3 separate regions of the Homo sapiens genome follow, and regions 2 and 3 are each linked to region 1. Evidence: fine-mapped expression QTL. A gene starts in region 1. Each other region holds a variant in brackets. All regions are shown on one strand. Distances are between the middles of the regions. Region 1 holds the start of STRN4 (striatin 4). Region 2 overlaps STRN4 (striatin 4). Region 3 overlaps SLC1A5 (solute carrier family 1 member 5).

Evidence for each region.
Region 2: its variant is fine-mapped to the expression of STRN4 in whole blood (TOPMed, PIP above 0.99).
Region 3: its variant is fine-mapped to the expression of STRN4 in prefrontal cortex (GTEx, PIP 0.93).

The regions. Positions count from the first base shown.
Region 1 is chr19:46,744,926-46,747,763 of GRCh38, forward strand. It overlaps STRN4 (striatin 4), which reads right to left and starts at 1,525. Exons shown (of 18, transcript NM_013403.3): 1 at 1,224-1,525. The coding sequence starts at 1,505. It overlaps FKRP (fukutin related protein), which reads left to right and starts at 1,132. Exons shown (of 4, transcript NM_024301.5): 1 at 1,132-1,165. RefSeq lists silencers at 1,071-1,300, 1,511-1,560, 1,571-1,720, 1,761-1,860, 1,901-1,950.
Region 2 is chr19:46,722,801-46,725,638 of GRCh38, forward strand. It overlaps STRN4 (striatin 4), which reads right to left. Exons shown (of 18, transcript NM_013403.3): 10 at 2,673-2,838; 11 at 2,532-2,579; 12 at 2,007-2,128; 13 at 314-484; 14 at 10-150. Among named protein-coding and RNA genes, the nearest start is that of PRKD2, 7.1 kb to the left of the region's middle. RefSeq lists an enhancer at 2,545-2,838. The variant G/A (reference allele first, on the strand shown) is at 1,708.
Region 3 is chr19:46,782,605-46,785,104 of GRCh38, forward strand. SLC1A5 (solute carrier family 1 member 5) reads right to left here. Exons shown (of 8, transcript NM_005628.3): 2 at 1,913-1,955; 3 at 1,493-1,540. Among named protein-coding and RNA genes, the nearest start is that of SLC1A5, 4.7 kb to the right of the region's middle. RefSeq lists enhancers at 1,364-2,500, 2,046-2,500, 2,064-2,403. The variant G/A (reference allele first, on the strand shown) is at 1,308.

The sequences.
Region 1 (2,838 bases):
CCCTAGCCCAACTCCTCAGACTCTTCCATTCAACATCCCTGTCCCAAGCTACCCCAAAAACCACGGGGTCTTTTCCCAAGACTTCCACAAACATATCCCCTTCCCCCCAACCCCAGTCTACCCCCGTTCCGAGATGCCTCCTCATGTTGCCTTCGGGCTCTACAAAATTCTCCCCCCTAAAGCATCACCCCAGGGTAACCCCTAACTCGTCCTCATTGGCACCATCCCAGGACCCTCACCTCCATACTGGACATGCCCAACACCCCACACTCCAGTTCAGGGCTCTCTACCTACATCCTACAACACACGTGCCATCTCAGTGCCATCGCGCCCACTCCTGCACACCCCCAAAGTGGAACTTCCACTCTTAAGCTCTCCCATCCAGGCTCCTAGGGTACATTCCCTGCTCTGTCCACACTTCCACTCCAAAGAACCCTTCCCTGCACTGTGCAGCCACACATGCCCGGGATCCCCAAAGTTTCTCCTCAGAGGGGAAGGCACACACCTTCATCCTGGACCCCTTGAAACCCTCCTCCCACCCCTCGGGTCCTTACACAGCCCTCCTTCCGTGCCCACCGTCCAGTCGCCCCGAAACACACCGATCCCAGGTTCCCGACTTCCTCTCCCTAAATCCTCCCGGTTCCCCATCTGGACCCGCTCTTTCCCAGCGGGTCCCAAGTTCCCCCCTTGGACGCTCCCACCTCCAACCTGCACCTGGCTAGGGCCATGGTCGGGGTCGGGGTCGGGAGTCCCTCGGCGCCCGGCAAGCTTCTGCTTACTCCCACAGGAGACCACTCAGGTCTCCCAGACCCCTCCAGCTCCTCTCCACACCCTTTCCCGAGTTCTCTTAGCCTCCCCTCCAGGGCTCGAGTCGCCTCTCTCAGGAGCCCCGCGGCCAGCGTGCTCAGTCCCAGTCCCAGTCCCACTCCCAGCTGGTTGTGGTCCCTCCGCCCCTTTCTCTCGGCCGGTCCCGGTGATCCCTCCCACCCCCGGTCCCTCCACTCCCACCTCGGGCCGTCCCGGTCCCGTCCCACCCCGGAGTGCCCTCAGGACACCCCTCGGACGGCCCCTCACTCGCCCTCCGGGACCGTCGCGGTCCCCTCCCGCCCCCCCGCCGGCCGTCCCGGCGGCCATTGCTCCAAGATGGCGGCGGCGGCGGCAGCGGGTGAGGCCGGGCCGGGCCGGGCCGGGTTGGGGGTCGGGGGTCCCGGGACAGCGCTCACCTGTAACTCGGCGCGCTCGGCCTCCCAGCGGGCTTTCTCGGCTTCGAAGCGCGCCCACTCGTGCTGGATAAAGTGCAGGATCCCCGGCAGGCTCAGGGGCTCCGGGCCCGCCGTGGGCCCGGGGCTGCCTCCGCCGCCGCCTCCCTTACCTGCCGGGCCCGGCCCGGGGGCAGGGGCGGAGACCGGGGCCGCCCCAGTGGGGCCAGGGCCCGCGCCTGAGCCGAGCGGACGGCAGGAGGAGGCGGCGGCGGCGACCGCGGCGGCCGCTCGCTCCTCCATCATGGAGGCCCCGGGGCCGGCCTGCGCGCCCGCTGTGCCTCGCGCGCCTGCGCGGCCGCGCCAACACCCCCCCCCCTCCCCCGCCGCAACCACCGCGCGCGCGCCCGGCGGGGGACAGTAGGAAGGGGGGCCGGCGGCGAGCGCGAGCCTCGCCCACCCGGGTCTACACCGAAGGGTAGCGTGCCCGCGCGGGGGCCGGCGGGTGGGAGATCGCGCCCCGAGGAGGGCGAGGGAGACCCAGGCCCCGCGCGACGGTCCCCCTCGCTGGAGTGAGACTGAGGAAGGGGCCGCTTTCTGCCCCCCTCCTCCCACTTCGCCCCAGAGAAAGAGCCTTACCCCTTCCACACCCAAACACCACTCTCCTGGACAATTACTTTTACTCTGAGAGAAAGGGCGACCAGCAGTGGCCCCATCCTCTCTGATTGCCGGCCAGGTTGGTTGTCATGGTAACCCTTCCCCAGCGGTGGGGGCGAGGTGGTGGGGAGCAGCCTTCCCCTCGCTTCCACCTTTGTGGTTATGGAGCCCCAAACCTCTTAGGACTCTGCACCAGGAGAAGGTTGCTAAGGTAACCTAAGTGTCCGTGGTGGTCCTTCTGCTCCTATCCTCATTGATTACTATGGCAACCTCCCCCCCACCTAGCATTCAGGTAGAAAGGACCCCAGCCCCAAGGACACTGATCTCTAAGAGAAGCACCTCTTCCCCAGCCCCTCCCCCATAGCCACCTAGTTGGCATTACCATGGTAACCGTCTTCCCCTTCCCATCGTGGGAGGCCCATGCACCAAACTAACCAGGTGTTTTTATTTAGAGGAGATGCTCTGCTGAGGGGCAGTTGCTATGGTTACAGGGCCTGGACCTTCCTCCGGAAGGTGAGAAACAGGCAAGTTCAAGGCCTGGTTACTATGATAATAGAGCAGCCCCCTTCGAGTGACCCTAGGAACCAAGCCCAACAAAGGAGGGGATTTTTTTTTTTTTTTTTTTTTTTGAGACAGAGTGTAACTCTTGTTGCCCAGGCTGGGATGCAATGGCCCAATCTCGGCTCACCACAACCTCCGCCTCCCCGGTTCAAGCCGTTCTCCTGCCTCACCCTCCCAAGTAGCTGGGATTACAGGCATGCGCCACCACGCCCGGCTAATTTTTTTTTTATTTTTAGTAAAGACGGGGTTTCTCCATGTTGGTCACGCTGGTCTTGAACTCCCGACCTCAGGTGATCTGCCTCAGGCCCGCCTCGGCCTCCCAAAGTGCTGGGATTACAGGTGTGAGCCATCACGCCCGGCCAGGGGATGTTTTAAGAATGTCTCTCAGAGGTAGAGTGTGTCTATGGAAGGGGTTGTCATG
Region 2 (2,838 bases), 22 kb before region 1:
CCCCCTTACCGCTGCTGCCCCGGGACTCCAGCGTGAGGAGGGCACTGCCAACCTCCATGTCATACAAGACGGTGTCGCCAGAGCGGAAGGAGGCCACGATGTGGGCAGGCTCGGTGCTGGTGAAGGCCACTGAGGTGGGGACCCCGTGCTCTGAGGGCACAGGGAAGAGAAGGCTGCTGAATGGACCCTCAGACCCAGCCCTGCCCCAGGGTGGGGGACAGTGGGTGGGAGGCCTGGGGCCTCAGCAGGAACCACTCTGATAGCCTCCAGATCCCGCACAGCTCCAGGGTGAGGCACCGGGGCCCCCACTCACCGCTGGCTGTGGGGAAGGTGCAGAGGCAGGCCGGGCTGCTGCTGCTGGGGTCCCAGATGCGGACGGTGCCATCAGCAGAACAGGAGGCCAGGCGCTGGGAGGTGGGACTGAAGGCCAGGCCCCACACGGCGTCCCCGTGGCCCTCCAGGACGTGGCTCAGCACGCTTGGGTCTGCACCCACCGCAGGGAGGAAATGGGCTGTGTCAGGGCTGCCAGCTCCTCCCTGGACAGCCCAGAGCCCCAGCTCTGCCAAGCCCCAGGCAGCTGGGCTCCAATCACCCACGCACCCACTTCACACCTGGTGCCCCTCGGAACTGTCCACTGCCAGGACAGCCCGGCAGCTGCTCACACTGCCCACTAGCTCTCCAAGGAAGGTTCTAGGGCTCCAGAAGGCAGGGATTTCCCTCTATTCACAGCTGTCTCCCCAAGCAGGGCCCAGAAACTGGGAGCTCAATACAGAATTTTTCGGGCTCCATTAAGGAAGAAGGAACAGCATGGTTCTGTGGCCCCAGGAGCGGCACGCAGCCTGTGCTGGACAAGGGTTGGTCCCAACCCTGGCCCGAGCAGTCTTTTCAGCCCATGGCCAAGTGCATGGGCTTTGCCTGGTCTCTCCAAAGCCCCCTGGTCATTCAGAGGTCCAATCACTGCTTCCCTGGTTGCTGGAGTCCACACCAGCAGCTCTGGCCTGCTGACACCGAAAGTGTGGTGGCTAATGTAGCTGGGACCGATCCTGACCTTGTGCAGGTGAGCCTGTTCTCTAAAGTCTGTCCTCCCCTTGAGAGGAGACAAAGACCTCTGAACTCTGCCCAGACAAGGTGGAGCACAGGGCCAGGTGCATGATCAAGGAGGCAGAGCCGGGCGCAGTGGCTCATGCCTGCAATCCCAGCACTTTGGGAGGCCAAGGTGGGTGGATCACCTGAGGTCCGGAGTTCAAGACCAGCCTGGTCAACGTGGTGCAACCCTGTCTCTACCAAAAATACAAAAAATAGCTGGATATGGTGGTGCGTGCCTGTAATCCCAGCTACTCGGGAGGCTGAGGCACGAGAATCACTTGAACCCAGGAGGTAGAGGTTGCAGTAAGCCAAGATCACGCCACTGCATTCCAGCCTGGGTGACAGAGTGAGACTCTTTGTCTCAAAAAAAAAAAAAAAAAAAAAAAAAAGGCAGAGAACAGGGGGACAGATGTTGAACAGAAGTGACAGTCTGGTCACTTCCCTACTTAGGTCTTAGATGCTCCAAAGAGAAAGCCCCAACGCGCTCCAGCCTGGCCCAGCTAACTCCACCTTCTCTGCTTTCTCTGGACATGCCCTCCCCTCAACCACGCAGAGACCCTGGCGGATCCCCACACACAGAGTACACGGCATGGCAGAGCAGAGGCTGCCAGGGCCAGCCAC[G/A]CCTGTGCATGGGCTGCTCCCAGCCTGGGCTGCCTCAGCACTGCCTTCTGGACGCCGGCTCACAGAGATTCTCAGGCAGCTTCACCACCTCCTCCCACAGCCATCATTCCCATCCCGGCTGGCTCGTCCCTTGGCCACGCGCTGCATCGCGCTGCTCACAACAGAGCAGACAGGGGAGCCGTCACACGCACTCCTGAGGCCTGCAGTGTTGGCAAGAGGTGGACGCGACGTGTGTGTGCGTGGAGGGGACGGCCAGGCCCCAGTGGATGTGAGGGGAAGGCGGGAGGCGTTGTCCTCACCGTAGCCATCATAGGGATCCATGCTGAGGTCTGGAATCTTCCAACTATGGATGCAGGCATCTGCCCCGCCACTGTAGCAGTATTCACTGTTGCTGCCCATAGCCACAGCCAACACTGGGCCCCTGGAAGGGACAAATATGTGGAAAGGGGGATGAGACAAGCTCAGGGCCTCCCCTGGCCACAGGACCTAAGTTCCCTACTAGCATTCTTCAAGGATGGCCAAAAGGAATTCAGTGACTGGGGCTCTGGCCATGCTACCTGGACAAGCTGCCTGTCCCCTGCCCTCCCCCACCCCACCTCCATCTCCTCCCCTGAAGGGCTGTGCTGAGTACCAGCTGCCAGGGCATGTGAAAGTCAGCATGGAGCCCCAAGAACCAGGGCTGTGTATATCATGAAGGGGGCGGGGACTCAGAGCCCCCTGCTGTCCTGCCTCCTGCCGTGGGCCTCCCGCGATGGCAGTGAGCAGGTCAGGAGTCAGGCTGCATTTAGGACGAGTTTCTAGCAGGCTCAGGGGCACCTCCCTACCTGTGAGCCCGGAAAGCATGTATAGGTTCCACATCTAGCGCCGCATTCCTGTGGGATGACAGAGGAGCCTGATGTCACTGAGACCCTGTCACCCCCGTCCCCAGATGCCCCTGCCCCCGGCTCTGAGCTTGCTGCCCTCACTTCTTGGCCGTGACCGCCTTCTGCAGGTTCCAGAGCTTGAGCGTGCCGTCCTCGGAGGCGGTGAGCAGAGCCGACTGGCTGTGGTGGAAGGCCAGGGAACGAATGCCGTCGTAGTGCGAGCGCAGGGTGAACTTGGGGTTCCACGTCTTCTTAAAAGCATCTTTGC
Region 3 (2,500 bases), 38 kb after region 1:
ACTGAGGGCCTGTCCTTGGCACCACTGGGACCCAGCAGAGACAAGGCAGCCCTCAGACCCCTTCCTCCCAAGGCTCCCAGTCCAGGTCCAGGGGAAATATATTAGTCGTCAGGGATGGCCCAGAGTAGGTGGGGCTGGAATAAGGGAGTCCAGGGGAGTGTGGGAACCAAGAGAGGGCAGTGCCAGCTTGGGGAGTAGGGGGCAGTCAGGGGGGACTTCCTGGAGGAAGGAGCATCTGAGCTGAGACCTGGAGGACAAGAGGAGTGAACCAGGTAAAGAAGGGTGGTAGAAAGATCTACAGAGAGGAAGCAGAATGTGCAACAGCCTAGAAATGAGTGCAACTTGGGCATTCAAAGAAGAGCCATAATCTACTGTGGCTAGAGTAGAATAATCTGGGCAGGGTCACTAGTTAAGGATGGGCAGCCAGGCGGGCTGGCAGGGGTTTGACCTCACAGGGAGCCCTTGGTCATAGACTGTAGCAAGGAGACTGGACTTTCTCCTGAAGGCACTGAGGCACATGGCAGGGCTCTGGGTACTGCAGAGATAGGGTCACATTTGTGTTTTGAAAAGATCCTCGGGCGGAGCACGGTGGCTCACGCCTGTAATCACAGCACTTTGGGAGGCTAAGGTGGGCAGATCACCTGAGGTGGGGAGTTCCAGACCACACTGACCAACATGGAGAAACCCCATCTCTACTAAAAATACAAAATTAGCCGGGCATGGTGGCACATGCCTGTAATCCCAGCTACTCAGGAGGCTGAGGCAAGAGAATAATCACTTGAACCCGGGAGGCGGAGGTTGCAGTGAACCGAGATCACGCCATTGCATTCCAGCCTGGACAACAAGTACAAAATTCTGTCTCAAAAAAAAAAAAAAAAAAGAAAGAAAGAAAAGAAAAGATACTCAGGGCCAGGAGCAGTGCCTCACGCCTGTAATCCCAGCACTTTGCGAGGCGGCCAAGGTGGGCAGATCACTTGAGCCCGAGAGTGCAAGACCAGCCTGGGCAACATGGCAAAACTCAGTCTCTATAAAAGATACAGAAATTAGCCAGGTGTGTTATAGTCACAGCTACTGGGAAGGCTGAGGTGAGAAGGATCACTTGAGCCCAGGAGGTGGAGACTGCAGTGAGCTGTGATCGTGCCACCGTACTCCAGCCTGAATGATGGAGAGAGATCCTGTGTCAGAAAAACAACAACAAAAACCTCTGGCTGGCTGCCAGTTTGAGCAGGTTGAGGGTGGATGGAAGGGGGCAGGGAGAGGGCAGCATGGAATGGGGTTGGGGGGTGAGGGAGAAAGGAAGAGCCTGG[G/A]CACCTGGGGTGGGAAAAGAGGGGACAAAGTAGAGACCTATCCAGAAGGCAGAAAAGACAGAAATTGGGGAAGGACTGCAGAGTGTCAATCAAATTCCACAGCAAAGACTAAGGCAGAAATAAAACCAAAAAATTATAGCAATAGGCAAAGAGGTAGAGCCCCCGCTGCCTCCCACTGCTCTCACCTTCACCCTGGTTCCGGTGATATTCCTCTCTTCATAGGTGGTAGAGTACTGTAGGTGGGGTTGGGAAGAGTCAGTGTCCATCGTTACCAGGGCCTCCCAACCCCATGCCAAGCTAACAATGCTCAAAGCCTGCCCTTCCACATCCTTTCAATGTGATCTCATTTCATCTGCTGGCAACCCCATGGGGCAGGATGATCAATACCCCCATTTTCCAGAGGTGGAAAACCGAGGCTCAGAGAGGTAAACACATTTACCCAGAGTCACACAGCTAGAATTAAAACTCACAGGAGGCTCTGAGCCCGTATTCTCATTGACATGCATTTTTCCAGGAACTAACCAAAATCAGGTAGCAAGGGCTCCCCCTGGCTGGCATCCCTCCCTGTCCACCCCCATCCCCTCAGGACACCCCTGAGGACTCACTGAGCGAAAGGCTGCTGACACCAGGTTGGAAGGGAAGATATTTCTGCAGAGACAGACACACAGAGGGTTATTAGATACCATAGTGGGAGGGCAGCATTGTCTGAGAGGCTGGGTTGGCGTTTTAAGGCAGCGAGTGGAAGCTTTGGGGGCCCGCCTGCACGCAAATACAGCCCCTACTCATGCCTCAGCCCGGCAGGGTTGGAACTAGGCTTGCACCCCTTTGCAGGACTTGGGGAGTCAGCCTCCTTCAGCCCCAAGAGGCTGGCGTGCTAGCCCTGAGGCATTGTGGGTTCGGGGTGAGGAATGCTGGCCTCCCACGGCAGGCCAGGGCAGGTCGCCCCGGGCCTCAGCTCCACCCCATGCAGCAAACTTAATACCCTGGACAGCTTGCATCAGCCACTTCCTCCTGGAGGGCCTGCCAGCGGCTCTGAGAGTATGGGGGAGGATCTGGGTGTGTTGGGAGGCGGTGGCGGGGAGGGAGAAAAGGGACGGCTTCATATCTCATGAATATGCATCTGTGTTTACAAGGCTACCCTTACTCTTGTGTGACAGTGTCTGCCTTAAGATGAAAATAGTAGCTAAGGCCAA